7 linked regions of the Homo sapiens genome follow. Changing the gene in region 3 together with the main gene of any one other region gives a genetic interaction. Each region holds a gene or a part of one and is shown on either strand. Other genes may lie near its edges. The genes, in order: C16orf96, MAX, CDH1, DDI2, DRC2, UBE2T and CHD4.

Evidence for each region.
Region 1: changes in CDH1 (region 3) and C16orf96 together harm fitness more than expected from each alone (negative genetic interaction), as found in Homo sapiens cells (one large-scale study listed by BioGRID).
Region 2: changes in CDH1 (region 3) and MAX together harm fitness more than expected from each alone (negative genetic interaction), as found in Homo sapiens cells (one large-scale study listed by BioGRID).
Region 4: changes in CDH1 (region 3) and DDI2 together harm fitness more than expected from each alone (negative genetic interaction), as found in Homo sapiens cells (one large-scale study listed by BioGRID).
Region 5: changes in CDH1 (region 3) and DRC2 together harm fitness more than expected from each alone (negative genetic interaction), as found in Homo sapiens cells (one large-scale study listed by BioGRID).
Region 6: changes in CDH1 (region 3) and UBE2T together harm fitness more than expected from each alone (negative genetic interaction), as found in Homo sapiens cells (one large-scale study listed by BioGRID).
Region 7: changes in CDH1 (region 3) and CHD4 together harm fitness more than expected from each alone (negative genetic interaction), as found in Homo sapiens cells (one large-scale study listed by BioGRID).

What each region holds. Positions count from the first base shown.
Region 1 is NC_000016.10:4,573,038-4,577,380, reverse strand, and holds part of C16orf96 (uncharacterized protein C16orf96), read right to left. Parts: intron 2,673-4,343; coding exon 2,592-2,672; intron 2,410-2,591; coding exon 2,323-2,409; intron 2,208-2,322; coding exon 746-2,207; intron 1-745.
Region 2 is NC_000014.9:65,095,596-65,099,938, forward strand, and holds part of MAX (protein max), read right to left. Parts: intron 1-4,343. UniProt on the Homo sapiens protein: Transcription regulator. Forms a sequence-specific DNA-binding protein complex with MYC or MAD which recognizes the core sequence 5'-CAC[GA]TG-3'. The MYC:MAX complex is a transcriptional activator, whereas the MAD:MAX complex is a repressor.
Region 3 is NC_000016.10:68,813,200-68,817,542, reverse strand, and holds part of CDH1 (cadherin-1 isoform 1 preproprotein), read right to left. Parts: intron 4,231-4,343; coding exon 4,048-4,230; exon of another isoform or gene 3,981-4,047; intron 2,029-3,980; coding exon 1,784-2,028; intron 1-1,783.
Region 4 is NC_000001.11:15,662,056-15,666,398, reverse strand, and holds part of DDI2 (protein DDI1 homolog 2), read right to left. Parts: 3' UTR 1-4,343. UniProt on the Homo sapiens protein: Aspartic protease that mediates the cleavage of NFE2L1/NRF1 at 'Leu-104', thereby promoting release of NFE2L1/NRF1 from the endoplasmic reticulum membrane.
Region 5 is NC_000012.12:48,913,942-48,918,284, reverse strand, and holds part of DRC2 (dynein regulatory complex subunit 2), read right to left. Parts: intron 3,882-4,343; coding exon 3,712-3,881; intron 1,316-3,711; coding exon 1,177-1,315; intron 11-1,176; coding exon 1-10.
Region 6 is NC_000001.11:202,335,340-202,339,682, forward strand, and holds part of UBE2T (ubiquitin-conjugating enzyme E2 T), read right to left. Parts: intron 480-4,343; 5' UTR 416-479; coding exon 307-415; coding exon of another isoform or gene 303-306; intron 1-302. UniProt on the Homo sapiens protein: Accepts ubiquitin from the E1 complex and catalyzes its covalent attachment to other proteins. Catalyzes monoubiquitination. Involved in mitomycin-C (MMC)-induced DNA repair.
Region 7 is NC_000012.12:6,596,819-6,601,161, forward strand, and holds part of CHD4 (chromodomain-helicase-DNA-binding protein 4), read right to left. Parts: intron 4,236-4,343; coding exon 4,108-4,235; intron 3,852-4,107; coding exon 3,716-3,851; intron 3,578-3,715; coding exon 3,399-3,577; intron 3,195-3,398; coding exon 2,955-3,194; intron 1,608-2,954; coding exon 1,404-1,607; intron 1,282-1,403; coding exon 1,076-1,281; intron 1-1,075. UniProt on the Homo sapiens protein: ATP-dependent chromatin-remodeling factor that binds and distorts nucleosomal DNA. Acts as a component of the histone deacetylase NuRD complex which participates in the remodeling of chromatin.

The sequences.
Region 1 (4,343 bases), about 64 Mb from region 3:
TGTTTAAAAATTTTTTTAGAGATGAGGTCTTGATGTTACCCAGGGTGGTCTCGAACTTCCAGTTCAAGCAGTCTTCCTGCCTTGGCCTCCCAAAGTGCTAAGATTACAGGCATGAGTCACCATGCTTAGCCAATACAATACTGTTTTATGGGCTATCACAAAGGAGTTTTTTTTGTTGTTGTTGTTTTTGAGACAGAGTTTCGTTCTTGTTGCCCAGGCTGGAGCGCAATGGCATGATCTTGGCTCACCGCAACCTCTGCCTCCTGGGTTCAAGCGATTCTCCTGCCACAGCCTCCCGAGTAGCTGGGATTACAGGCATACACCACCACGCCCAGCAAATTTTGTATTTTTAGTAGAGACGGGGTTTCTCCATGTTGGTCAGGCTCATCTTGAACTTGCGGTCTCAGGTGATCCGCCCACCTCAGCCTCCCAAAGTGCTGGGATTACAGGTGGGAGCCACCACGCCTGGCCACAAGAGTTTTTGAGAGTAATTTTGGCATGCCATTTTCCTCGTGCCAACTTTAGACCCTAACAGCCTCCCTGCCCTAAGATAAGACCTCATTGTACATTCAACAGAAAAGAATAGACTCGTTAAGAGCCAAATGCTTAAGCCAAAGGAAAGAATGGCTAATGGTGGAATGCAGATTTTGTTGGTGGAGCCCAGTGAAGGACAGGACACACTTCTCAAAGGCTGCAGGGAGAGCCCCACTCCCTTGTGCCCTTCCCAGGGCCAGACCAGGCCTACCTAGATAACTCAAGCGCTGGTTCAGGTTACAGGACAGCTGGGCAAATTCTTCCTTCAGAGAGTCGTGTTTGACAGGTATCTGGGCTATGTGGCTCATGGAATACTTGACAGCCCTCTTCTTGTCTTCAGGGCTCATGGCCTGCTTGGTAGCCACCATGGCCTGGGACAGGGCTGGATCGGGACCGATGCTGGCAGCAGAGTAGGAGGGAGAGAGGATTTCGTAGATTTCGGAATCATCGCCCAAGATCTGGGATTCTGTGGCTCCCCGGGAAGGCCCTGCACCCAGGACATCTGCAAAGACCCCTAGGGGCCCAGCTGCAGCCGTGTCTGTTGCAATGGCGGCCATTTTGGTGGCTGGGGCATCCTTGACAAACTTGGCAGCAACTTTGGCTGCCTGGGCAGCGGAGGATGTGGCAGCGGCGTAGGCTGCGGCGGCAGCGGCGGCGATGGCAGCGGTGGTTTTCAGCCGGTGAAGGGCAGACTGGGGAGCCTTAGGCTGTGCTTCCTTGGGGGCCCCATCCTTGCCAACTCTATCCTTGGGGTCCCCATCTTTGCCACCTCTATCTTTGGGGACATCATCCTTGTGAGCTCTATCCTTGGGGTCCACATCCTTGCCACCTCTATCTTTGGGGACATCATCCTTGTGAGCTCTATCCTTGGGGTCCACATCCTTGCCACCTCTATCTTTGGGGACCCCATCCTTGCGAGTTCTATCCTTGGGGGCCCCATCCTTGCGGGCCCTCTCCCGAAGGCCCCTTAGGCTGGGGACATCATTTTCCTCCCCCTTTACTTGGACAGCTGCGAGCTGGAGGGCTTCTCCCTGGCGAGACTGATATGGCTGGAGTGGTCGAGGCCACAATGAGCCAAACTCAGTGGCTGGTGGTGGGGCCCTGGAGGGTTGGGGCTGAGTTGGCCGCAGGACACCTAAGTCCCACAGAGGCCAAGAGCCCACCCTGGGCCAGCCTTGGGGAAGAGGCCAGCGTCTTGGGAGTGCAGGCCAGTCTCCCAGTGGTGGAGGCTGGGCACCTGGGGCAGGCACAGGTCCAAGCACAGGCCAAGGTGCTGGCAAGGACCCAGGTGTCACACTGGGCCCTGGGACAGGCCCCAGGGCAGGCACAGGCTCCAGCTCCAGCCCCAGCTCCAGTCCTGGCACAGGTTCAGTCCCAGGTGCAGGCCCAGGTGCAAATTCAGTTGTGCACCCAGGTGCAGACTCAGGCGTGAGGGCCGGAGGCTGCGCTGGCTCCTGGGCTCTGCTGAGTGAAACTGCTTGGGCAGATGAGCCCTCCGGGAGGAGCTCTGGGACCTCATAATGCCAGACAGTCTGCAGTAGCTGGGGGTTTTGGACGGGCTCGGAGACCTGGATGGCACGAGTAGCTTCAAGGTACTTGGTGGTCTGGGCCAGGGCAGCCTCTGGGAGCTGCTCTACAGACTGCCACAGGTCCAGTGGTGATGAACCAATTTCCTGCAGAAGAGGGGGCAGAGGGGCTCTGCTGGCTTCCAGCCCCGCCTCCCACTCTCAGTCAGCCACCCGCCTGCTCCCCAGCTTCCTGCTAACCTCCCCTTCCTTCCTCACTCACTGAGGTGAACATGGCATCATGAAGGCCACTCCAGAGCACCATGTCCTCGGTTTTGGGGATGGTTTTAAACTTATTCTGGAGAGAAGCCTGCAAGGTGGGGGTAGAAAATGAGGGCTGTGAGCCTGGAGGGGGCAGTGTCCCCCACACCTGCAAAGAAACCTTTCCAGGCTGTGTTCTCCTCCTTGCACCTCCCTACCCTCAGCACCCAGGACCCGGGAGGTTGGGGGGTCCCAGGGGGAGTGGGGGAAGACAGGGATGGTGGCCCTCACCACTTCCCGCTGCAGTGCAACCATCTTCCAGTTCTGTATTTTGAAGTCTTCAGCAAAGATGTCCATTCTTTCTGGGTGTACCTGTCAAAGGAACTGAGTCTGTGGACTGGGGGTCCAGGTTCTGTCCCACCCCTGCCTTTTCCCGTGGCTCTAGGTGACTAAGAGCTTGAGAAGGAAGAACGGGTTCCAAATCCAGTGTTTCCCAAGGAGTGGGAAAGGGTTCCATGGGCAAACAAGTTTGGGAAATGCTGGGCTTGAAAGCATGTCAGGCCGGGCACAGTGTCTCATGCCTGTAACCCCAGCACTTTGAGAGGTCAAGGTGGGTGGATAACTTGAGGTCAGGAGTTCGACAGCAGCCTGGCCAACATGGTGAAACACCGTCTCTACTAAAAATACAAAAATTAGCTGGGCCTGATGGCATGCGCCTGTAATCCCAGCTATCAGGAAGCTGAGGCAGGAGAATCACTTGAATCCAGGAGGCAGAGGTTGCAGTGAGCTGAGATGGCGCCACTGCACTCCAGCCTGGGCAACAGAGTGAGACTTTGTCTCAAAAATAAGTAAATAAATAAATAAATAAAAAACATTTCAACAGGTTTCTGTACGGCAGGACTTCCCAGAGCCTTGAATGAGCAAAAGCACATTAAGAATCTCCAAGAGGGCCGGGCACAGTGGCTCATGCCTGTAATCCCAGCACTTTGGGATGCTGAGGCGGGTGGATCATGAGTTCAGGAGTTCGGGACCAGCCTGACCAATGTGGTGAAGCCCCCACCTCCACTAAAAACACAAAAATTAGCTAGGCGTGGTGGCTTGCACCTGTAATCCCAGCTACTCAGGAGGCTGAGGCAGGAAAATCACTTGAACCCGGGAGGCAGAGGTTGCAGTGAGCTGAGATCGTGCCACTGCACTCCAGCCTGGGTGACAGAGAGAGACTCCGTCTCAAAAAGAATACAAAACAAAACAACAACAACAAAAACACCTCCAAGAGACAGGCCAATAAGGCATTGTTTTTCTTTTCTTTTTTCTTTTTTTTTTTTTTTTGAGACAGAGTCTCACTCTGTTGCCCAGGCTGGAGTGCAGTGGTGTGATCTCGGCTCACTGCAAGCTCCACTTCCCAGGTTCACACCATTCTCCTGCCTCAGCCTCCTGAGTAACTGGGACTACAGGTACCTGCCACCACATCCAGCTAATTTTTTGTATTTTTAGTAGAGATGGGGTTTCACCGTGTTAGCGAGGATGGTCTCGATCTCCTGACCTTGTGATCTGCCCACCTCAGCCTCCCAAAATGCTGAGATTACAGGCGTGAACCACCATGCCGCCCCACCGACCCCACCTTTTTTTTTTTTTTTTTTTTGAGACGGAGTCTTGCTCTGTCACCCAGGCTGGAGTGCAGTGGCGCAATCTTGGCTCACTACAATCTCCACCTCCTGGGTTCAAGTGATTCTCGTGCCTCAGCCTCCTGAGTAGCTGGGGTTACGGGTGCCTGCAACCACACCCAGCTAATTTTTGTATTTTTAGTGGAGACGGGGGTTTTACCATGTTGGCCAGGCTGGTCTCGAACTCCTGACCTCAGGTGATCCGCCTGCTTTGGCTTCCCAAAGTGCTGGGATTACAGGCGTGAGACACCAGGCCCCGCCGAGAAGGCATGGTTTCTCCAACAGCTTTGTCTAAGGGGCCCTTTTGAGTAGCTCATGATGCAGCTTTTAACAGCGTTCTTTCTGCTTAGATGGGAGCCATCCAGCCCATGCCTAAAGC
Region 2 (4,343 bases), on a different chromosome or scaffold from region 3:
CCTAAGGAGCTTAAAGGCCAAGAGACAATATTTGGCATGTGTCTGCGGCTCCTGTTTGCTATATACTACCTAAGGTGGTTTATTTACATGCAAATTAATTGCCCATCTTTGGTCTCCAGAGCAGCCCAAGATACTCCTGTCTACTAAATCACCCTGATTCTTGGCCCTCCTCCCAGCTAAGAGCTGTGCACCAGAATTACCCACAATCCCTCTTGTTGATACAAATAAAATTCTAATTGTCTGTTTTCTTTCTGGGAGAGCCCTGCAAATCTCAAACAGCTAGAATGAAGTTGCACTTGGTTTCACGTGGACCTGCACTAAAGGGGTGGAGCTAAGTATAATCTAACACCAAAATCATCCCCACAATGCACTACCCCCTCCCATTCACTGAGCTCTGAAAGGACTCAAATGGACAAGTCTCTCGGTTGGAGGATTGTAAGTGAACTTGGCTGTAGATCATGAGCAGAAATCTTGGCTTCTCATCTGGGGAGCCAGCCAAGTTTGAGAAGTTGGCTCAACAAGGAAAGGCAGCAGTCCACTGCCTGGTAGAAAGCCTGGGCTGGGGACTGTTGTTCTCAAAGTAGTGGATGGAATTTCTGTAGTGGTTCCAGGCCCAATTTAACTAGCAGAAGAGTGGAATCTTACACCAATCCCTGCTGCCATGTCCATCCCTGAGCTACTAGTGGAGTCAATTTTAAATCTCTCAGAGACAATGGCAAGGATGTATTTTTCTCTTCCCCAAGCTTGATTTGAAAGAACAAGTTAAAAACATGCAGAACTAACAAGCCTAATTCCAGGCAACTGTGAATTAAATGTTATCACTAATGTTTTGAAAGAGCACATGAAAAACAGAAAAACCTTTACACAAGGCTGAGAATTCTCTGTGGGAAACATTTCCAAACCACAGATCCACCCAGACCAATAACACTGCCCGCGCCTCATCCCCACCCCCATTGGAGGACTAGTTTGCAGGCTTTATCACTGCCTTGTTAACTGTCTTTGCTTGCTGGCAACCCTTTTTGAGAGGGCCAAGATTTCAGAGTTGAAGAAGAAAAACTGGGTGAAGACTCCCAGTGTAAGGCATCTAATATCCTCCCCCAAATGCAAAACTGGTTTTAAAAAACAAGCCCAAACAATTGTCTTGAACAAATAAAACTCTACTCAGATGAGCCTGTACTGAGAATGATGTTCAGTAATGAAAACAAATGGTACGGAAAACCCCCTTGTGGAATTAATTAGGCCCTATTCTAGGAGACCACAGAGGTATTCTTGGACTGTACAGCAGGCTCCCAAACATCTCCCCTACACATCCTATGGTTACAGTGGCTGGATGCTGCCCACTCTTCTAGTACGCTGGATTTGTACGTCTGGATGTCTGCCAGAAAACCCTTCCTCCAGGGCATCCCTAACAGAAATACTAAGGGGCTATGCAGTGGTCCACAGATGCTCAACAGAAACTCCCGCACCAAATCACTTCCAGCTTTGACATCTCTGCCAAAGTTTTTATTCAGCCTCTCAGTTATATTTCTACCCAACTTTCCACACTGGTAGACAGAATAAAAATCTTCACCTACAATTTGTCCATCTTTGACACTACCAAGCACGTGTATCTTAAGTGTTGTTAGATGTTGAAGACAAACATTATTTTGTTAGCCAAGAAGTTGCTATGTTGGCAAGAAGTCATCTAGGCTAAGGAGGTCTGTTCAAAATTGAGGGAAATCTCTTAAAATTATTTCCTTCCAACTTACTGCAGAGAGACTGCATCTTTGTTCAAGGCATCACATCAGTCAGTAATCTTATTTCCTCCAAGTTCTAGGCAAATAGCACGGGGAAATAAATGCTTCATTATTCCAGGATGCACAAGGTTCTCCAGAACAATGCCATGTCTTACAGGCTACCTGACAGCTAACCCCACCTATAAGGGGAACCATCTCAATTCTAATACAGAAAATTCTCAGCATATAGGGAATTAGTTGCCCACTCAATATTTACTACCTTTACAAAATGTGAAGGTTGTATTTTAGAGGGAAGCTTGTGTTGCTTATGATTCTTATCAAGCTATTCTTATTAGAGACTAAGGACACGAGAATACACAGACCCAAAAATCTCATCCGAAAAGATCTATTTCTTACTTCTGATAGATAAGAACAAGATAGGATAAAGCTCAATTTCTAAGCAACTTAAAATATTCATTTTAATCAACCCAAAAATTATAACATAAAATAATAGGCAGGTAGGATGGGATAAACTCACCAAGCTCCCTAAGAGAAAGACATGGATTTCAATTTTCCAATACCTGTCCTGCTTGTAGCTGATTGCCTGGTATACATTTCCAACATTATCTAATGTATGTATTTGTTTTCAAACTTTTTTCTTTTGGTGCCTAAAATAACTGGCAAATGCTATAATCCAAACAGGGCCTCATACTATAGCCATTTCAGAGAAGGATGCCTTGGTCAGGAAATTTTAATTAAAAACCAAGCTGAATTCTTTGACCAACTATTTCACCGTTACTGGCATCTTGGAAAAATTCTTTTAGACATAAGAACAACTTTTACCCTAACACAGGCACATTTAGGAACTAACTCTGGCATTTGTTATCACTGTAAGCATCACTGTCAACACTCTAAGCAGAGAAAAAGTACATGCATTGTGCAGCACTTTTGCCATGCAACTGACTGCAGGTAAAACAGACAGTAGTTTCCTGAGTGAATTCCAATCTCGGAGGCTACCAAGCTCGTTCTCTTCTGAATATTCCTAAAGAAGCAAAGAGCTCTGAGAAGTTAAAAATATTTCATGCCAGAAAGGTCCAGAAGTGGAATTGCACAAATCTGTTTTCAAACCCCTCACAAGTATACTGCAACTGCAACTCAGTCAGGTGCCATCAAGGATGGTCACTGGAAAAAAAATTGCATTTCCTGACCAACACACTAACCCATACATTTCCTGTATACTTACACTCTTTCCTAAAGAAATTTCCCAAACAGAAATAAAGCAAAAGGAAGCCCTTGCAATATAATATACCTGTCCCACAAATTTATCTTTAAAATGCAACCTCTTCCCTCCAAAATATAATAAAAATAACATCAGTGGGATTTTGCGATGTACTGAATTTAGTAGTAAGAATACTCTTTGGGGTTACTTCCTTTAACAAAGCTTACTGGCCATTGGAGAAGCTGTTTTCCGTTTGTACTGAAGCAATAGAAAAAAATATTTGCCAAATCAGTTTCACTTTCTGTTAGAGTTAGCCTAACTTCCTAACTCTCTTCTCAGTATCTTACATTTCTCATGTAGTAAGGCCTATATATTGTAGTGACATTATAAAACATACATGAATGTTTTTATATTAGGATCCACAGAACCCTTTTCAAATAACTTTTTCAACATCTTCTGTAGTCCTGAATACCTAAGTATTTGGTTGTTCACAGTCCACATCTTTTTTTAAACCTTTTTTCTAAGGCAAAACTTAAGAATAGCTCCCTCTTAAATTTTAAAAAATATATTTATTATCCATATTAAATATTGAGAAGTAAGCAGATGCATTCACAGAGGGGAAAAAATGGAATCCTTTTTACCCTACACAGTCACAATAGTTGTTTGATATACTATAAAATTTGTTTATAACATATCTGCTTTTTCTCTCCATGCTGTTGTAATTACATTGTGCAGAGTAATATTTAGAAATATCAACAAATAGATGTGTTAAATTAAAAACAAAGTGTCAAACCAACTTCCTTTGCCTACCCCCAAAATCAAAAGGAAAAATCCTAGGCACCTTAACAGCAAACTAAAAACATCTAGACAAAACAATGAGATTAGCATTCCAGGAAAGCAGAAACATTATAATAATTTAATAACAAATTTATATCAACGATCATATGGATGAAAATTTTGAAAAGCAGAAAGCTTTCAAGAACTGCGAGCCAAAATTTCACCAAAAAAACAAACAAACAAACAAACAAACAAAAAAAACACAACTTTCTCTTACTGGGAAGTCAGTATAATTTCAATTCAAAGGATAATTCTGCAAAGGAAGGCTAAACGATCCTTACCCTCCAGCTCTGATCAAGCCCTAGCACAGATTTTACAACTGGAGACTTGCAGGGAAAAAAAAAGTTTTCAACAGACTAGGCCCCAAACATGAAGGATAAAAGTAAATGTGAAAAAGGAATTCAATTTTCAAATATATGCATAAGTATATGAGAATACTTCAAGGATAAATAAAATAAAACAAATTATCTTTAATGACTATTACCCAGGGATAATTTTTAAGACTTTTGGAACAACTACATCCCCGGATTTTATGGAAATATCAGCTCTCAATAAATAAGTTTTCTTAATGC
Region 3 (4,343 bases):
GATTTCTTCACAGCAAAGGTGCCTTTTTTCACTGCATGATTAACCTATAATCTGCAGGTAGATAATTTGAGAATATCTTGTTCAGCAACTAATTTTCACCCAATGGATTTGGCATCTGTGGATGATTCTTGCTGAAGCAATGATTACTATAATCCTTATTTATTTTTAAAAGCAGACTCCTGCAGACCAGCTCCCCCAAACAATACAGTAGTTCCTAAATGGTGGCAACATGCCACCTCCTCTCCTGTCATGAACATCTGGAGATGCAGGTTGCCCTGTTGACCTGTGGGTGGACTGCACTATTGCCATTTAATGGGAGGTACAGGGAGGCTAACAGAGATCTACTGCTCAGTTATTTACTAGGGTCATGGAAAGGCTCTGAAAGAGAAACTAAGAAATCAAAGGAGGAAAGGGCTCTAAGAAACTGTGGGCTTGGCCTCACTTCTTTGGAAGTGCAAAGCAATGAATTACATCAAGTGGTCATTGTTCCAGGCGTAAGGGCCTCTGGAAACAGACACTAAAGACCTGGTCCCTGAATCTGCCCCAGGAGATGCTTTGAACTATCTATTTCACTACTGCAAGCTTTCAACCCAGCCTGGAAACTGTACAATCCAGGGTTTCATCACTGAACCTAATCCTACATTATTGTCTTTGACTTTTCATCATTCTTTTAAACTTCGATTAAAACCCATCTTGCCAGGCCTTACAGTTTGGAGCATGTAGAAATATCTCTAGATTATGAGGAGTCCATTGGCTACACATAGAAAATGAGAGTTTTTTTGTTTTTTGTTTTTGAGATGGAGTCTCACTCTGTCACCCAGGCTGGAGTGCAGTGACTCGATCTCAGCTCACTGCAACCTCAGCTTTTTGGGTTCAAGTGATTCTCGTGCCTCAGCCTCCCGAGTAGCTGGGATTACAGGTGTGTACCACCATGCCCAGCTAATTTCTTGTGTTTTTAGTGGAGGCAGGGGTTTCACCATGTTGGCCAGACTGGTCTTCAACACCTGGCCTCAAAGTGATCCACCTGCCTAGGCCTCCCTAAGTTTTGGGATTACAGGCATGAGCTGCTATGCCCAACCCAAAATGAGAGTATTTTAAAGCAAGTGTTGTAGTTGGTTGGTTGGCATGTGGGTTCTCAGTTCTCAGCATCTGTGTGATTTACATTATAGAGGTACCTTCAAGTTTGAAAGGAGAAATACTGATAGTAAGCTACTTAGAACACAATACTATGGGCTGGGTGCGGTGGCTCACGCCTGTAATCCCAGCACTTTAGGAGGCAGGCAGATCACTTGAGGTCAGAAGTTCGAGACCAGCCTGGCCAATGTGGTGAAGCCTTGTCTCTACTAAAAATACAAAAATTAGCCGGGCGTGGTGGCAGGCACCTGTAATCCTGGCTACATGGAAGGCTGAGGCATGAAAATTGCTTGAACCCAAGAGACAGAGGCTGCAGTAGGCAGAGATCACGCCACTGCACGCTAGCCTGGGCGACAAAGTGAGACTCCAAACTCAAAAAAACACAATAGTATGTATGCAAAGTAAAATTGCATTTCTACCATACTACAAGAGCTCAAAGAGAGGCAGCACATCAGACCAAGAACGGCTGTCTGTGAAGGGAAGGGAACAGGTGAAAGGAGCACAGATAAAGGGAATAAAAAATAAATTAAGAGAATGGTCTTGTACAGACAAATGACAAAATGCCATGAAGTACATATTATTGATTTACATATAAAATGATATAAAATAACCAGTTGCTGCAAGTCAGTTGAAAAATCCTCACACTTACGTTATTTTCTGTTCCATAAATGTGTCTGGCTCCTGGGCAGTGTAGGATGTGATTTCCTGGCCCACGCCAAAGTCCTCGGACACTTCCACTCTCTTTTCAGGAGGCACAAAGATGGGGGCTTCATTCACATCCAGCACATCCACGGTGACGGTGGCTGTGGAGGTGGTGAGAGAGACCTCAAAAGGTACCACATTCGTCACTGCTACGTGTAGAATGTACTGCTGCTTGGCCTCAAAATCCAAGCCCTAGAGAGCAGAAACAATGAAGTTAAAAACAAAACGAAACATTTTGTGTTAGTAAAAATAAAATTAAATCCTTAACTGTTGCTTTTGGTAATATATTAGGTTGGTGCAAAAGTAACTGTGGTTTCTGCCATGACTTTCAATGGCAGAAACCACAATTACTTACCATGGCTTCTCAAATCTGCTCACCTACTCAAGAGGAAGGCAAAGCTGGGGCTATTCTAGGGATCCAGTCACTTCAACAAGCAATTCACTCAAATTCTTAGTTTTCAAGTTTCTTTCCTTATTTTATTTTTTTCTGAGACAGAATTTTTGCTCTTGTCACCCAGGCTGGAATGCAATGGCTCACTGCAACCTCCACCTCCTGGGTTCAAGCAATTCTCCTGCCTCAGCCTCCCTAGTAGCTGGGATTACAGGAGCCCGCCACCACACCTGGCTAATTTTTTGTATTTTTAGTAGAGACGACGTTTCACCATGTTGGCCAGGCTGGTCTCGAACTCCTGACCTCAGGTGATCCACCCGCCTTGGCCTCCCAAAGTGTTGGGATTACAGACATCAGCAACTGCACCCGGCCATCTTTTTTTTTTTTTTTTTTTAAGAGATGGAGTCTCATTCTATTGCCCAGGTTGGAGTACAGTGGCATGATCATAGCTGAGTGCAGCTTCAACCCCCTGGGCTCAAGTGATTCTCCCACCTCAGCCTCCCAAGTAGTTGGGCCCACCGCCATACACTACTGCGCTTGGCTAGTTTTCAAGTTTCTAGGACATTTTTCAAAAACAACCATATCTGCCCCACTTCTAAAATAAACCAGCACAAGAGCAGAGACCAGTAAATCATTTTCTCTGTCACCGCAAAATGGAAAGAGCTGAGGGAAGGAGAATGTTTCTGGGAAAGAGCCTATTAAAGCAGATAGTACTTCTTTTTCAATTTCAGGATCCTGTGTAACAGCTTCTTGATTTCTTTTTTTTTTCAGACAGAGTCTCACTCTGTTGCCCAGGCCAGGGTGCAGTAGCACGATCTTGGCTCACTACAACCTCTGTCTTCCAGGCTCAAGCGATTCTCCTGCTTCAGCCTCCCAAGCAGCAGGGATTACAAGTGTGCACCACCACGCCCAGTTAATTTTTGTATTTTTGGTAGAGACAGGTTTTCACCATGTTGGCCAGGCTGGTCCCAAACTCCCGACCTCAGGTGATCTGCCCGCCTCGGCCTCCCAAAGTGCTGGGATTGCAGGCATGAGCCACCATGAGCCACCAAGAAGCCTTAGCTTCTTGATTTCCTTTTTTTGAGACGAAGTCTCACTCTGTTGCCGGGCTGGAGTGCAGTGGCACGATCCTGGCTCACTGCAACCTCCCTCTCCTAGGTTCAAGCGATTCTCCTGCCTCAGCCTCCCTAGTAGCTGGGACTATAGGTGCACACCACCATGCCCAGCTAATTTTTGTATTTTTAGTAGAGATGGGGTTTCACCATGTTGGTCAGGATGATCTCGATCTCTTGACCTTGTGATCTGCCCGCCTTGGCCTCCCAAAGTGCTATGATTACAGGCGTGAGCCACCACGCCCGGCCTCCTTTTCCCCGCCCACCCCTGGAGACTGAGTCTTGCTCTGTCACCCAGAGCTGGAGTGCAATGGCACGATCTTGGCTCACTGCAACCTCCACCTCCCAGGTTCAAGCAATTCTCCTGCCTCAGCCTCCCTAGTAGCTGAGATTACAGGCACGTGCCACCATGCCTGGCTAATTTTTGTATTTTTAGCAGAGACTCAAACTCCTGACCTCGTGATCTGCCTGCCTCAGCGTCCCTAAGTGCTGGGATTACAGGCGTGAGCCACCACACACAGCACAGTTTCTTGATTTCTTACATGAGCAGGAAGAGCCACTGCAAATCCCACATGGTCCACTACAATCTGGGAAAGTCACCCTGTCCCCCTGCCAAAGCGAATCTACTTCTAAGAAGATACCAGGGGACAAGGGTATGAACAGCTGTGAGGATGCCAGTTTCTGCATCTTGCCAGGTACCATACAAACCTTTGCTGTTTTCAAAATGCCATCGTTGTTCACTGGATTTGTGGTGACGACAAATTGTCCACCATCATCATTCAATATGGTGTATACAGCCTCCCACGCTGGGGTATTGGGGGCATCAGCATCAGTCACTTTCAGTGTGGTGATTACGACGTTAGCCTCGTTCTCAGGCACCTGACCCTTGTACTGCAGAGCAAAGAGATGTGTCATTTACAAAGTACCAAGACTGCTAGCAGAGCTGAGTCTCAGGGGGCTAAAGGATTCCTCTTTTTTTGTTGTTCTTTTGAGATAAGATCTCA
Region 4 (4,343 bases), on a different chromosome or scaffold from region 3:
ACTCAGTCAAGGTGAGCCTGAGGACCACTCTGTGTGCCCTCCATCTCCAGGAGAGCTATTTTCAAACTTTCCCCTAATACTCCTCTCATTCCCCACCAAAATTTGATGCCTCTGCTATTCAGAGAAACTAAGGCACAAAAGAAAATCAAGCACATCGAAGGTTCACTCCTAAGTTCATTCAGTGAACTCCTAGTAACACCTACTGAGGAATCACTAAGGTATAAAACTTGAACCATGATTTTACATTTCCAGTTCTCAAGGACAGGCTTTGAATTTAATTTGTTGTTAAGAGTAATTAGCAATTCTAGGGAAAAAAAAGCTATTTTTATTTTCTCTACCTCCTAACACAAAAGGTAACATTCATCTTCTAGGAAGGGAAACTCTTGATAACTCTGTGTCTTTCTAGGTCAGCCACAGACTACACTAAGTCACCAACTCCAAAGGGGAAATTTGGCTTTTTGGTGAGTACTTGTGCTAGAGAACAGTAGAATGCATAATCTGGTCAGCTTCTCTTGGGACACACTGCCAGTGATAACAGGTTTGAAATATGCAGCAGTTCAATCATCCTGCTCACCCTCACCACAGGTGGCAAACAGGTAGGAAAAGGCCATTGCAACGCCCTGCAGCTTTTCTGGCCGATGATTTGCAAGGCTGTTTGCTATATATATATATATTTATATATGTGGCGGGATAAAAGCCACCATAAGTGAAGAGTACGTCTGTAGATATAAAAATTGCTTGCTTTTAAATCCATATAAAATTAACTATACTTGTCAATCACCATATGTATATGCTAGCTTACACACATATATATAGACATGAGCTTAAAAGTTAACCTAAATTTTTATGGCTTTCACCGGAGATAGAAAGCTGTAGTAAGACAACCAGCAGATTCCACATTAACTGGTTATCATAAAATCAGTGACAAAAAGCCTCATGTTCCATTTCTATGTACCCTCTTGCTAGAGACATGCTTTGGGAAAAAACACATAGGGTTGTGTCTCCCTTTAGTACATATGAAGACAGGGAGCTCTAGAAGATGTGGGCTGCAAGGCAGAAGAGTTTTAACACATGCACTCGCCATCTCTCCAGCTTCCTTTGCCAAGCAACTGGTTACCTTTTTTTTTTTTTTTTTTGAGACAGAGTTTTGCTCTTGTTGCCCAGGCTGGAGTGCAATGGCGTGATCTCTGCTCACCACAACCTCCGCCTCCCAGGTTTAAGTGATTCTCCTGCCTCAGCCTCCCGAGTAGCTGGAATTACAGGCATGGGCCACCACACCCGGCTAATTTTTGTATTTTTAGTAGAGATGGAGTTTCACCATGTTGGCCAGGCCTGTCTCAAACTCCTGCCCTCAGGTGATCCACCCGCCTTGGCCTCCCAAAGTGCTGGGATTACAGGTGTGAGCCACCGAGCCTAGCTGCAACTGGTTATCTTTATGTGTTAATAGCTGAAGCCCAAACTGTGGGATGAAGGCTATTGGCTGTCTGGAGCCCTGAACAGGTATGAGTGGAAATAATTCTTAACAGCATCAATGAGCAAAATCTATAACCTATGTAAAGCTGCTGTCTGGTTACCAAGCACATCTTTCCGCTCAAGAACCAACTTCAGGGAAATGGCACAAATTACACAGGAAAATCTTCTCTCTCTGGTGAAGAAACAGAGACCGCCCTTGTAGTTAAGTGCTGACCGCAGAACTGCCCACTACTGGTTATGGTAAAGGAGCTGTCCGGTAAAGGTGCCCATTACTGGTTATTACTGTTGGCAACCAGAATTCACAGGGATTTGATGGTATTCTTAGAAGTTAACCCATAATTTCTGCATTTCTGGAGCTCTTAATTGAATAAAAGCTGACGATGAAGGTTCACTATTGTAATGCTCCTTAATATACCCTTTGCATTCTAGAGCTGCTAAATTTAAGTCATCCAAAATATTAACAGTGTCAATAGCTTTTTTTTTTTTTTTTTGGGTGAGACAGAGTCTCACTCTGCCGCCCACACTGGAGTGCAGTGGCGTGATCTAGGCTCACTGCAACCCCCATCTCCCAGGTTCAAGCAATTCTCCTGCCTCAGTCTCCCAAGTAGCTGGGATTACAGGCGTGTGCCACCATGCCCAGCTAATTTTTTGTATTTTTAGTAGAGATGAGGTTTCACCGTGTTGGACAAACAGCTTTATTTTTATAAAAATGATGGGCAAGAAGATTTTAAAAATCAAAAGCAATTATACTTTGGCCTTTATGTAGTCCCAGCTACTCAGAAGGATGATTAAGCCCCAGAGTTTGAGTCCAGCCTGGGCAACACTGCAAGACCCCATCTCAAAAATAAAATGATGGAAGGGACAAGGATATTTGGCAAGTGGGTTAAGCTCATTCAGAGTATTCCTAACAGGAATTCATGTACAACTATAGATCTATTCCTAAAAATAAATATACATATACATACACAAAAAGCTATCCTAATGAAATCTTTTCCCGACTGATATTATATATTCCACTTGGAACTGTTTCCCAAATATCCACACTGAATTGTGTGCCAAGGTTCGTTCTGCTTACATGGAAGGCCCTTTAGGAGGGAGTCTATTGTCATCAGTAAGTTCCCCCACCCTTCCCACCCCGTGGTTCCAAAGATTTATAAGCTTAGAATACATTCCCAAACCACCACCCATAAAGCAAATACAGGGTCCCATTGCATTGCTACTAGATTTTGCATCAATCATAGCACCAACTATTTAATTACAATCACAGCTTTAAGTCAGCTGACAGAAATCCTATGAGCAGTTTCCTAGTGCATCGTACATCTTTGGTGTAGGGCAGGTGAAAGGGTCTACAATGTGCAGCTGTCTAAAAGAACATCTTAAAGACAACCTGGCTGACCTGTTGTTCTTCACGCCCTCTGAAAAGCAGTAAACTACAATTCCTTCTGTCAACCATTTCCTAACTACATAAAGGATCATGATGAATCTACGTGACACGCCATCCCATCACTAAAGTCTTATAACATACATACAAACATCATAGCAAAAGGAAAGAAAGAAGTTGGATGGGGTAGAAAAAAATGTCTCTAAGTGCCCCTAAATTAAAATTTCAAAAACTCCTGAGATATGAGCCTCCATTTTGATTGTGCTCAATGACTTAAAATTTGATGAAACAAACAAGCTTACAAAGAGTCAGACTTCAGACAAAATCATTTAACACTAAGTTGAGAAATCACTCTTTCGAAGCTTCTGTTTCAAACATGTTACAAACTATAATCTAGAATCAGAAATTATGAATCTCAAAATTCTTTTCAATAAAACCAAGACTTCAGATTCCTGCTAGGTACCCAAAAGAGCAGTTTGCCAGGAAAGAATTATCTAAAACCTATCCAGTAGGATTATTGCACAGTGGGGCCCACAGGACAATGATTTCCAAGGGCTAGTCCTTATATAAAAAAAGGCCACAATAAATACATCTATATATTATGCCCCACTCTAACTTGACATGGTAAACACAAATAAGATGAATTTTGCTTAAAAAAGAAACTCCTGAGGAAAGAAAAGGATGGAAAACTCTACCAAGGCCACTTAAGTCAGAAACTGTAATTACTATTTCCACTGCCACAAAGGACACTCTCCAAATAGACTGACCGTTCCAAGCACCAAGATTAACCAGTGACAAGGTTATCACACTTAGTATTTCACTCAGATCACAGCTCACACTGAGCGTTTGAAGAACTTCCTGGCAGAAGAGTCTAGAAAGGAAATAAGCTGCTGGCAATGAATCCATTCCTGAACTTAATTCCACCATTAGTCATTAAGGGTTGAGGTGTTATCAGTGAGATGCTAGCAAACCCAAACTCTAGCAAATTCCAGTGTTTAGGCCATTATTTTTCCCTCACAGTTCTTGACATCTGCAAATGGAATTATGGTTGTTCTGTTCTTTTAAGAATCTGGGTAGCACCACGTTTCACTTGCATTGTAACTCCCCCACAATATCCCATCCAATGTAATAAGGATTCATGGCAATCCATGCAGCAGCCTGTGATGCACAAAGTAGCCCAAGATTTAAACCCTCCTGCTCGCCCTATTAAAATGTCAAATCCTAAGCACACAAATAAAAACATACCACTCTACGATAAGATATTCAATTATTCTCCAATTTCCTGTTATAATTAATGAATCATGATACACAGAGCACTGGGTAGAATTCCAAACACCAAATTATGTGGTCAAAAGTTTCTAAATTGACAACTGAGCCAGCAAACCATACCTTGCCATCAGCACAGACACACAGTCACAGTGTGGAGAGTTCATCTGTTTTTAGCTGGATGGGTAGTGGGATTTCTCATGGCTTCTGCTTTTCAAAGCAT
Region 5 (4,343 bases), on a different chromosome or scaffold from region 3:
CTTCTAAATTCTAGCAAGTGACCCCAAAATAGCAAATGTTTGGAATTACCTTATTAGTGCCCTTTCACTTCTACCAGCAATCCCACCCTCTTGAACTGTTTGTAGCATAGTTTAGTACAGAGGTCTCCCATGAAAATGCCTACACAAGACCAGGCAGATGATATAAATATGTTTTGTGGGCCGGGTGGGGCCTGTGGTGAACTGGAGAGGAAATGCTGCATTTGGGAGGAGGAGGGGCAGTCACTGAGCTCCACGTGAGCCTTGCCATTTGGAAATGTGGCCCAGTGTTGCCAGATCTTTAAATTTTTCAAGGGAAGCTGAAAATTTGGATGTTTTTGTGAAATCTCCAATTTTTAAGTGTAGGATGCTTATTCAAAAAATTGTATAAAACACTGTGGGGTAAATAAAAACAAAGAACTCCATACCCAAACCTAGGTCTGTGGGCTGGCTAAGATTGCAACCTCGAGGACAGTGGAAAGCACTTTGGATCAAGGGGCAGGAGACCTAGATTCTCCTGATTCTACCACAAACCAGCAGCATGACTTTGGCAGGTCATTTTACTTACTTGTGCCTTACTTTCTTCATCTGAAAATCACAGGGGTGAAGCCAGATGATCTCCTTGGTGCTTTTTAGCTCTAAAATGCATTCCCTTGACAATTTAGAATGGTCCTCCCTCCCAACCAATTTTCACAAAATTACAAAAAGCATTAGGGATACCTACAGGGGGCAATAGATGTTTTATTGACTGTGTTGGCTAAAGGGGTCTCTTCTACTTCTAGTAGCCTTGAGCATTTTTCTTTTTTTCTTTTTTTAATTTTTTTGAGACAGGGTCTCGCTCTGTCACCCAGGCTGGAGGGCAGTGTTGCTATCACAGTTCACTACAGCCTCCATCTTCTGGGCTCAAGCGATCATCCTACCTCAGCCTCTTAAGTAGCTTGGACCATAGGCACACACTACCACGCCTGGCTATTTTCTTTCTTTTTTGGGGGGGCCGGTAGAGATGGGGGGGACTCCCTATGTTGCCCAGGCTAGTCTTGAACTCCCAGTCTCAAGTGATCCTCCTGCCTTGGCCTACCAAGGTGCTGGGATTACAGGTGTGAGCCACTGTGCCCAGCCTCCTTGAGCATTTTTCTATCACCTCCTCCCACTTCTTGCCTATCTACTCTCCCTCCGTACCATGTTTTTGAGATCATTCCACATGCTCTGGAACTCCAGCTTGCTTTCATACTCAGAATCTATATAGTTCTGCTCCATGGCCATGAAGATATCTTGCAGATAGTGAATCTCTTTCTCATGTTGGTCAATAATTGTCTTCCTGTAGGAGACAAGACACTGTCCCTGCTCTGAGGGATACAGGATATTGACCAATAATGACAATTCAAAGCAGTATGTAATCTATGTGAATGGTACAAACTCTTAGGTACTGATGGAGAAAAGAGAGAGGGAAGGCTTTACTCTTTTTAGGGCTAGAAAGAATGAGTAAGGTTATTTTATTTTGATTTCTGAATGGGTAATACATTCATGTGATACAAAAAAAGTACAAAAGGTTACAGTGAGAAGTCTCTCTCCCATCCCTGTTCCCTGCCAAATGGGTAGGATTTTGATAGTTGAAAGTGGGTAGTTGGTCCCTCTCCCTCTCCCTCTCCCTCTCCCCATGGTCTCCCTCTCCCCATGGTCTCCCTCTCCCTCTCTTTCCACGGTCTCCCTCTCATGCCGAGCCGAAGCTGGACTATACTGCTGCCATCTCGGCTCACTGCAACCTCCCTGCCTGATTCTCCTGCCTCAGCCTGCCGAGTGCCTGCGATTGCAGGCGCGCGCCTCCACGCCTGACTGGTTTTCGTATTTTTTTGGTGGAGACGGGGTTTCGCTGTGTTGGCCGGGCTGGTCTCCAGCTCCTAACCGCGAGTGATCCGCCAGCCTCGGCCTCCCGAGGTGCCGGGATTGCAGACGGAGTCTGGTTCACTCAGTGCTCAATGGCGCCCAGGCTGGAGTGCAGTGGCGTGATCTCGGCTCGCTACAACCTCCACCTCCCAGCCGCCTGCCTTGGCCTCCCGAAGTGCCGAGATTGCAGCCTCTGCCCGGCCGCCACCCCGTCTGGGAAGTGAGGAGCGTCTCTGCCTGGCCGCCCATCGTCTGGGATGTGAGGAGCCCCTCTGCCTGGCTGCCCAGTCTGGAAAGTGAGGAGCGTCTCTGCCTGGCCGCCATCCCATCTGGGAAGTGAGGAGCGCCTCTTCCCGGCCGCCATCACATCTAGGAAGTGAGGAGCGTCTCTGCCCGGCCGCCCATCGTCTGGGATGTGGGGAGTGCCTCTGCCCCGCCGCCCTGTCTGGGATGTGAGGAGCGCCTCTGCCCGGCCGCCACCCCGTCTGGGAGGTGAGGAGCGTCTCTGCCCAGCCGCCCCGTCTGAGAAGTGAGGAGACCCTCCGCCCGGCAGCTGCCCCGTCTGAGAAGTGAGGAGCCTCTCCGCCCGGCAGCCACCCCGTCCGGGAGGGAGGTGGGGGGGTCAGCCCCCCGCCCGGCCAGCCGCCCCATCCGGGAGGTGAGGGGTGCCTCTGCCCGGCCGCCCCTACTGGGAAGTGAGGAGCCCCTCTGCCCGGCCGCCCCTACTGGGAAGTGAGGAGCCCCTCTGCCCGGCCACCACCCCGTCTGGGAGGTGTGCCCAACAGCTCATTGAGAACGGGCCAGGATGACAATGGCGGCTTTGCGGAATAGAAAGGGGGGAAAGGTGGGGAAAAGATTGAGAAATCGGATGGTTGCCGTGTCTGTGTAGAAAGAAGTAGACATGGGAGACTTTTCATTTTGTTCTGTACTAAGAAAAATTCTTCTGCCTTGGGATCCTGTTGATCTGTGACCTTACCCCCAACCCTGTGCTCTCTGAAACATGTGCTGTGTCCACTCAGAGTTAAGTGGATTAAGGGCGGTGCAAGATGTGCTTTGTTAAACAGATGCTTGAAGGCAGCATGCTCATTAAGAGTCATCACCACTCCCTAATCTCAAGTACCCAGGGACACAAACGCTGTGGAAGGCCGCAGGGTCCTCTGCCTAGGAAAACCAGAGACCTTTGTTCACTTGTTTATCTGCTGACCTTCCCTCCACTATTGTCCTGTGACCCTGCCAAATCCCCCTCTGTGAGAAACACCCAAGAATGATCAATAAAAAAAAAAAAAAAAGAAAGAAAGTGGGTAGTTGGTAAAAGGAATTTGAGGAGTTAAATTTAAAAAGAAGAAAAAAAAGTTATTTAAAAAAGTAAAACAATAACATAGCCAGGTGTGGTGGCACGCACCTGTAATCCCAGCTACTGGGGACACTGAGGCAGGAAAATTGCTTGAACCCGGGAGGCAGAGGTTGCAGTGAGCTGAGATCGTGCCACTGCATGTCAGCCTGGACAACAGAGCGACACTCCGTCTTGAAAAAACAAAACAAAATAAAAAAATAAAACAATAAAGAAAAAAATAGTGAAAGAAAAAAAAAGAAGAAAGTGGGTGGTGAAGGTACACAGACAGGGACCTGACGTGAGTAAAGGGAAGCTAGAGCTGCAAACTTAAGCCCGAGTTTGTTTAAAAGGAACCAAGATATTCTCTGCTGGGGGTCCCGTGATAATCAATGTGGGATGCTCCAAGATACTAGCCACTTGCTTACAGGCAACTCCTTGACACGGACTCTGGGCACTCCCCTGGATTCAATTCCCCATCTTCTCTTAGGCCCCCATACCTTTCTGTCTCAAACTCCTTGGTTAGGGCTTCCAGCTCCATGTTGTAACTTTCCTCCAGGAGACTGAGCCGGTGCCTCTGCAGGGCCAAGAGCTGGTCAACATTGTGCAAGTGGCTGCGCAGGGCATGGGCGTACTGCTCCTCGGCTTCGGACAGGTCTTTAGCTAAAGACTAGGCCAGAAAGAGAGAGTTACCATTCCAGCTGAATAGCATCTCTGTGAGAAAATAAAAATATATTCAGCTGGCAGTTTTTTCTTTGTTCCTAATGCCAATTCTTTGACTTTAAGAATGCTGGCTGTCCCCCTCACTCTTGTGTAAAGCAAGAGTGATGGCAAGGGCTGAGCAAGGTGGCTCGCATTTGTAATCCCAACACTTTGGGTAGCCAAGGTGGGAGGATTACATGAGCCTGGGAGCTCAAGACTAGCCTGGGCAACATAATGAGACCCCCCCATCTCTACAAAAACAAACAAACAAACAAAAAAACCCATAAAAATTACCCAGGCCGTAATCCCAGCTACTCACAAGGCCTGGGCAGGAGGATTGCTTAAGCCCAGGAGTTCAAAGTTGCAGTGAGCTGTGATCATGCCACTACACTCCAGCCTGGGTGACAGAACAAGACCCTGTCTCAAAAAA
Region 6 (4,343 bases), on a different chromosome or scaffold from region 3:
AGTATTCTAATCATGTATGTTTCCCATCTGGCCTCACAGATATTTGAGATGGTTATCTTTGATCTAAACACTGCTTCACTGCTTTAAATCTTGGCTATAAATCAGCATAAGGTATAATAAAAAGTCAAAGAAGCAAGAAATGTCAAGCAAACCTTTTATAAATGTAAACAAATTTGGGTAGAAAGATGGTAGGGCACTCTGACCTTATAACTGCTCCTTACTTTAGAAGAATACACAAAATGTTTTATTTCAGCACAATCTTCAATAGGGTCATGACTTTCATCATATACATGATTTGATACCTACGAGCTCGCAGGTCATCCATTTGGTCTTTATCTTGCCAACATGTGATGCCTGGGGGTGGCTCTGTGGCTAACATGTGCAGCTCTCTCTTCAGACGTGAAGCTCTCTGCATGATCCCCAAGTAGAAGGAACCACACACAGTTCACTGCTCCACACTAAGAGCTGCCTGGGATGCACTGGAGGAGAAAAGAGGTGACCATAAAATCATCAGCAATAATGACTATGAAGTTTTCAGCAAACAGCTTCAATGTAGTGAGGGTGGGGGACAGAGTCCTCTTTTTTGTTTTGAGACACAGTTTCACTCTGTCACCCAGACTGGAGGGCAGTGACACCATCTCAGCTCACTGCAATTTCCACCTTCTGGGTTTGAGCAATTCTCATGCCTCAGCCTCCAGAGTAGCTGGGATTACAGGCGTGCACCACCATGCCCAGCTCATTTTAGTATTTTTAGTAGAGACAGGGTTTCGCCATGTTGGCCAGGCTGGTCTCAAATGCCTGACCTCAGGTGATCCGCCTGCCTTGGCCTCCCAAAGTGCTGGGATTACAGGCGTGAGCCAATGCACCCAGCTTTTTTTTTTTTTTTTTTTTTTTTTTTTAGAGGCAGGGTCTTGCTCTGTCACCCAGGCTGGAGTGCAGTGGCACAATCTCAGCTCACTGCAATCTCCACCTGCTGGGCTTAAGTGATCCTCCCATCTCAGCCGCCTATGTAGCTGGAAGTACAGGTGTGTGCCACCACGCCAGTCCAAGATTCCTCTTATTAATCTCTATTCTGACAAGGGAATCTGAGTTTTTCCACTCCCTTCTTGTGAACGTTTATCTATACAAGCAAATATATTTTTAAAATAAAGAACTAAAAATGCAAAAAGTTCTACAAAAAATAAAAACACTAAAGGTTTTAAATAATGGGTGTTTCCACTGATAAATTATAAACTCATGAGGCCAGGCCTGGGTCTGATTTTGCTTACTATTGTAGCCTTAGCATGCCTGTCATAGTAAGGGATTTGACAAATATTTGCTGTTGTGAGGAAGTCTACATATGCTTTGTGAGAGCAAGAATGGTAGAGATAGTCAACATTCTCAGGTACAAACAAATGTTAAATGTCCGAGTTTCTCTCCATGTGCTATGGATTCCACCTTCTCCCAATCTTCAGGGATACCATTCCATCAATTATTCCATCTTTCTTACCCTCAATGTTCAAATATGCTCAAAGTCTCTCTCACCTAAAACCAACACCTACACACATATTCACCCAACACTCTTCTCAACTCTAGTTCTCTCTTTACTAACCAAGCAAAGGACACTAATCCCTTTTGTTTTTTAGACGGAGTCTCGGTCTGTTGCCCAGGCTGGAGTGCAGTGGTGCGATCTCGGCTCACTGCAACCTCAGCCTTCCGGGTTCAAGCAATTCTCTGCCTCAGCCTCCCGAGCAGCTGGCATTACAGACGCCCGCCACCACGCCCGGCTACTTTTTGTATTTTTAGTAGAGATGGGGTTTCACCATCTTGGCCAGGCTGGTCTTGAACTCCTGACCTCGTGATCCACCCACCTCAGCCTCCCAAAGTGCTAGGATTACAGGCGTGAGCCACCGCGCCCAGCCAACACCAATCCTTTAATGTGTTACAAATATCCCCCAGTTTGTGCTTATCTTTCCATGTTGTACATGGTGTCTTTCAATAAACACATACTCTTAACATAATCAATCTTAAAATCTCTTTCTTTACATTTATACTTTGTGTATTAAATTTTTCCTTACCCCCAAATGTAGAGATATTCCTACATAGCCTTCAAATATTTTATAATTTTGCTATTCAAATTTAAATATTGAATCCACTAGGAATTGAATTTTATGTATAGTGAGTGAGGTGGGGGTCCAATTTAAAGTTTTTCCCCATATGAATAGTCAATTGTTCTAACATCATTTACTGAATCAGTCCATCCTTTCCCTGCTGATATTACTATAAATTAAATTTCTATATGTGTGGATTTGTTTTGGGACTCTTGAATTTGTTCCACTGGTCAAGTGGATTATTTCTGAGACAATACTCCACTGTTTGAATTACTATAGCTTATTCATTTTTTATTATTTAAATTTTTTCCCAGCTTTACTGAGGTATAACTGGCAAATACAAATTGTATATATTTAAGGTGTACAATGTGATGTTTTACTATAGCTTATCCACCTGGTCTTTTTCTTCAGGAATGACTTGATTATTCTTGACTCTTTGCTCTTCCATATAAATTTGAGAATCAGTTCATAAGTCCATAAATATATACATAAATATGTATATCTGAAATTATAATCCAAATCATAACAGGGTTCTGTGGTTTGGATTGTAATTTTATTGATGCTATAGATCAATTTGGAGATAACTGATATCTTTATGATATTGAATCCTAAGATCCATGAACACGCTGTTTCAGTCTTTTTTTTGATGCTTTCCAAAGGTTTTATAATTTTCTCTATAAAGCTTTATCTAATTTTTGTTAGACTGATTTCTAAGTATTTATATTTTTGCTATCTTTTCAAAAACACTATTTTCTACCCATTTCTTACTGATACATGTAAATCTAATTGATTTTTTTTTATTTTTTTGAGATGGAGTTTTGCTCTTGTTGCCCAGGCTGGAGTGCAATGGTGTGCTCTTGGCTCACCGCAATCTCCACCTCCTGGGTTCAAGCGATTCTCCTGTCTCAGCCTCCTGAGTAGCTGGCGTTACAGGCATGCACCATTAGGCCCAGGTAATATTGTATTTTTTTAGTAAAGACAGGGTTTCTCCATGTTAGTGAGGCTGGTCTCGAACCACGGACCTCAGGTAATCCACCCATCTCAGCCTCTCAAAGTGCTGGGATTACAGGCATGAGCCACCTCGCCCAGCCAATCTAACTGATTTTTAACCAAAGCCTTAGTAATGCTAATGATGAATCTATTTGGGGTGGGGAGCAGTCTGGGAATGGTAATTCCACACTGCCAATCATGTCATCCACATATAATCAAGTTTATTTCTTCCCTTCTAATTCTTTTCCTGCCTTCTATTCTGACAGTAACTTCTAGTACAATGTTAAATGAAAAAGCTGATAGCTGGGCCAAGCATGCTGGCATGAGCCTGTAATCCCAGCTACTCAGGAGGCTAAGGTGGGAGGATGACCTGAGCCCGGGGAGACTGAGGCTGTAGTGAGCCATGATTGTGCCACTGCACTCCAGCCTGGGAGGCAGAGTGAGACCCTGTCTAAACAACAGCCAAAAAAAAAAAAGAAAAAAGAAAGAAAGAAAAGCTGATAGTTGGCATTCTTGTCAGATTTCTAACCTTAAAGGGAAAGCTTTTAACACTATGCTAATCAGTAAGACTGGCCTATAACTGTCCTTTCTAATTTTGTCTTTATTAGCTATCAAGGTTATGCTAGCCTCCTAAAATGAGTTAGGGAGTATTGCCTCCTTTTTTTTTTTTTTTTTTTTTTTAACATATTGTGGATTAGTCCAAGAGATAATTTGTTACTAGGTTGTCTGGAATAACTCCATCTGATCCTGGTGTTTTCATTTTGAGAAAATTTTAACCTACAAATCCAATTTACTTGAATCTTATTCAAGTTATTTATTCTTGCATCAATTTTGGCAAGTTAAATTTTTCCACAAATTTATCTATTACATGCAATTTTCAATTTATTTGTATAATGTTTTATCTTTTTAATCTGTAGTTATCTATGGTTATGTTTCCATTTTCATTTCTAACACTGTTTATCTGTGCCATCTTTTCTTTGATCAGTCTTGCTGGGCATGTATCAACCAAAAGGAAGTTCAAGTTTTGGTTCCACTGGAAAGAATAAAAATTTATGACAAAAATAGAAAATGAGAAAAAATACTTTTTTCTTAAAAATAAAGATTTTTTGCTGGAAGTGTTTTGTACTTCAAGATCACGCCACTGCACCCCAGCCTGGGCGATAGATTAGGACTCTGTCTCAAAAAAAAAAAAAAAAAAAAAAACATCTTCGTCCAAACACGTACTATACATTTTTTCTTGTCATTATTCCCTAAACAATACAG
Region 7 (4,343 bases), on a different chromosome or scaffold from region 3:
GCGTGGTGGCACACGCCTGTAATCCCAGCTACTCTGGAGGCTGAGGCAGAGAATCACTTGAGCCTGAGAGGCGGAGGTTGCAGTGAGCTTAGATCATACCACTGCACTCCAGGCTGGGCCACAGAGCAAGACTCTGTCTCAAAAAATATAATAAATAAATAAATAAATAGGCCGAGTGCGGCGGCTCACGCCTGTAATCCCAGCACTTTGGAAGGAGGAGGTGAGCGGATCACAAGGTCAGGCGATCAAGACCATCCTGGCTAACACAGTGAAATCCCGTCTCTACTAAAAATACAAAAAAAAAAAAATTAGCCAGGCATGGTGGCGATGGCCTGTAGTCCCAGCTACTCGGGAGGCTGAGGCAGGAAAATGGCGTGAACCCAGGAGGCAGAGCTTGCAGTGAGCCAAGATCACGCCACTGCACTCCAGCCTGGGTGACAAGTCTGTCTCAAAAAAAAACAATAATAATAAAATAAATAAATAAAGATAATAACATGAAGTGTCAGGCGCAGTAGCTCACGCCTGTAATCCTAACACTTTGGGAAGCTGAAGCAGACAGATTGCTTGAGCCCAGGAGTTTGGGACAGCTATGAGCAGTGATCACGACACTGCACTCAAGCCTGGGCAACACAGCTAAAATTTGTCTCAAAATAAATATATAAGGCTGAGCGTGGTGGCTCACGCCTGTTAATCCTAGCACTTAGGGAGGCCAAGGCAGGCAGATCACCTGAGGTCAGGAGTTCAAGACCAGCCTGGCCAGCAGAATGAAAACCCTGTCTCTACTAAAAATACAAAAAATTAGCTGGGCATGGTGGCTTGCGCCTGTAGTCCCAGCTTCTCAGGAGGCTGAGGCAGGATAATCACTTGAATCTGGGAGGCAGAGGTTGCAGTGAGCCGAGATCACGCCACTGCACTCCAGCCTGGGCACAGAGTGAGACTCTGTCTCAAAAACAAAAAACAAACAAAAAAAACCAGTGTCTTCCAAGTCTAAGTTACTGGTGACAGCCATTTTCCCAATCTCTTTAGCAGGACTCTCCCACGGAGACTGCCCGTCTCCCGTGTGCTCAGCTGGTACCTGTGGTTGAGGATTCGGTGGATCATCATCCACTCGGGTTTTATCCCATAGCGATAGAAGCGTTCCTCCATCTCTGCAAATTTAGGGTCCTTGTTCTTTCGCTTTCGGCTTTTCTCTTCATCACCACCAAAGTCCCCAGAAGGTGGCTCATCCATATCATTCTTCCGCTGATAGTTTCGGAACATCACCTGACAGTGCAGCTCCAGCTTTGAGCGGAAAGAGAAAATCAGCCACCAAGAAGCTGTGTTCATTCCTTCTATCCACAAGGCTCTTTTGTCACTATCCTCTTCATCGTAGCCCCTACATCTCCAGACTATCCTAAACTTACCTGCAGTTCAGAAACCCAGGAGCAGTGCCAGTAAGACATGCCTTGCCATTTCACAAAGAACTGCCGCTCTGGCCGCCCCTCCAAGGGCTTTGGGGAGGGCGTGTTGGGATCAGCATCTGGAGGCCGAGGCACTGGTGTGGGAGATGGTGGCTGACCCCACTTCCAGATTAGGATCTTCTGCACTTTGCCCTTCAGAGCTGGACACTGAGAGAAAAAGAGACAACTTAATCTCAAATCATAACCATGGGAGGAGAAGGGACAGCCCACAGTCTCAACTTCATCAAAGGACGATTCAGATCTCATTTCAGACCTGGAGCAGTGGCTCATGCCTGAAATCCCAGCACCTTGGGAGGCCGAGGCGGGCAGATCACGAGGTCAAGAGATCGAGACCATCCTAGCTAACATGGTGAAACCCCGTCTCTACTAAAAATACAAAAATTAGCTGGGCGTGGTGGCATGCGCCTGTAGTCCCAGCTACTTGGGAGTCTGAGGCAGGAGAATCACTTGAACCTGGGAGGCAGAGCTTGCAGTGAGCCAAGATTGCCCCACTGCACTCCAGCCTGGGGGACAGAGCAAGACTCCATCTCAAAAAAATAAAAAAAGATCTCATTTCAAATAAAATCTAATCCCAGGACTCCTCCAGGGAGAAAATACAGGTTGAGGACCCCTCATGTGAAATGCTTGGGACCAGAAGTATTTTGGATTTCACATTTTTGGATTAGGGTGCTCAACCTGTAATAGAATTCCCTCTCCATTTCTGGACATCGTCCAGGATTTGCGTGCCACCATCACTCCTATCTGCTTAACAGAGCCAGTAGTTAGACTTTAACAATAAGCCAGAACAATCAGGAAATCAACAGACTTAGAGCACAGAATTCCTCCCTTAAGCAATCTAAAGCAGTAAGTGGCCCTATTAAACATTCTAAACTGGCTGGCATGGTGGTAAACACCTGTAATGCCAGCACTTAATGAGGACAAGGGAGCAGAATGGTTTCAGACCAGGAATTCAAGACCAGCCTGGGCAACATAGTGAGACCCTGTCTCAACAGAGATTTTTTTTTTTTAATTAGCTGGATGTGGTGGCATGCACCAGTACTCCTAGCTACTCAGCAAGAGGTTGAGATAGGAGGATCACTTGAGCCCAAGAGTTGGAGGCTGCAATGAGCTATGACTGCACCACTGCACTCTAGCCCGGATGACAGAATGAGACCCTGTCTCCAAAAAAAAAAATTTTTTTAACAAAAAAATTGAAAACATTGTAAGCTACCAAGACCCTGAGGCAGGGTGTCAACACAGGGACAAATGTTCTCAGCTAGAAGAACATTGCTTCATCTCCTCTTAAGAGAGCTGGCAAAACATCAACTCCTCAGTTTGAAGTTAGTCCTATATTTTCCCAGGACAAAAGTATCCCAACACTATAGGATGAAGGAGAATACCTTTCTCAGGGCTGAAAAGCTCATAGTTCCTCTCCTGCACCCCAGCCTCACAATAGCCTACATAGAAAAGACTACACTTTCCCATTTTTTGCCCCGGCTGAGATCAGTCACTCACCGTACAACGGGGACAGAGCCATTCACCGTTGGGGATCTCTGGAAGTGGGGGATTCAGGCAGTGGATGTGGTAGGAAGAAGGACAGGTATCACAGCAGAGCAGTTCCCCACCATCCTTGCAGACCCGACAGAATTCCATATGGTGGTCATCCTCCTCTTCGAGGTCTCCCCCAACCTCTTCCAGGATCTCCTCACCCTCCGAATTGTCCTCTTTAGCTTCCCACTGGATGCCTTCCTTCTCCTGCAGTAAAGGACCACAGATTCAGATTATTACCCCCACCCGCCCACCGCAGTCTGAAGCCAGTGCCCATCATTCCTTTGAATGCTTCCCAAAGCTCACAACCCGCAGCACCAGCATTTCCATTTCCATCCAGGCCCCGAAGAGCTTTACTGTCCCACCCTTCTTCTCATGGGTTCCAAGGGGCCACAATGGCCAGACACTCACGCAGTGTGGGCAGCTCCACTTGCCCTCGGGAGCCTTCTCCATGTCGGGATCCAGGCAGACCATGTGGTAAGCACGGGGACAGGTATCACACAGGATGATCTCACCGCCTTGCTGGCACACCTCGCAATAGTCCTGGTGGTCTGTCTCATAACCATCCACAGCAGTCACCTCCTCCTCGCCTGGGCAAGGAAGAGGGAAAGCCCAGTTATTGGAAAAAAACTACCTCCCCCCACCCCCCGACCCCTATCTCCTTAGGGAGATTCTTCCCCAATCACTCCCACCTCATCCCATCACAAATATACAGAAGAGAAACACACCTTTCTTTTTCTTTTTAGTGGTTCGGAGTTTCTTGCGGCTGCGGCTACTACGGCTGGTGGAACCATCAGAAACAGAATAGCTATTGATACTGGCATCATCGAAGTCAGATTCCACATCTAAGTCATCATCCTCACTCTGGCAGGATGAAAAAGAATAAGGTTAGACGTTCAAGCCAAGGGGAAGGACAGAGTGGCAGAGAGGGGAGTACTCTCTCACTGGGGACACCAGAATCCCAGCAAGCACCGTTATACAGGGAGCCTAGTCTCATCTTGTTCTGTGGGAAACGCCCCACATTCTTACGTGCCTACTATGAAGGACAGGTTCTGATAGAAGGTCACATCCTTTCTATTAGACATGGCACCCTCCCTAAAGCGATGGGCTGGGCTCTCACCGAGGATCTCTTACGCTTGGAACCAAAACCTCCCAGCTTGATTTTCAGGGGAGCTACTTTCTTGGGTTTAGGCTTCTTGGCATCAGGTACACGAGGGCTGCCCTTGGGCTTCCTCCGAGCATTGGGACCTAAAATCAGGATATATCCAAATATATACCACAAGACCAAAGATGGGGAAAATAAAATCTTCTCCACCTAAGCTTGCTTCCCCACATTCAGATTCCCAAATTTCCCTC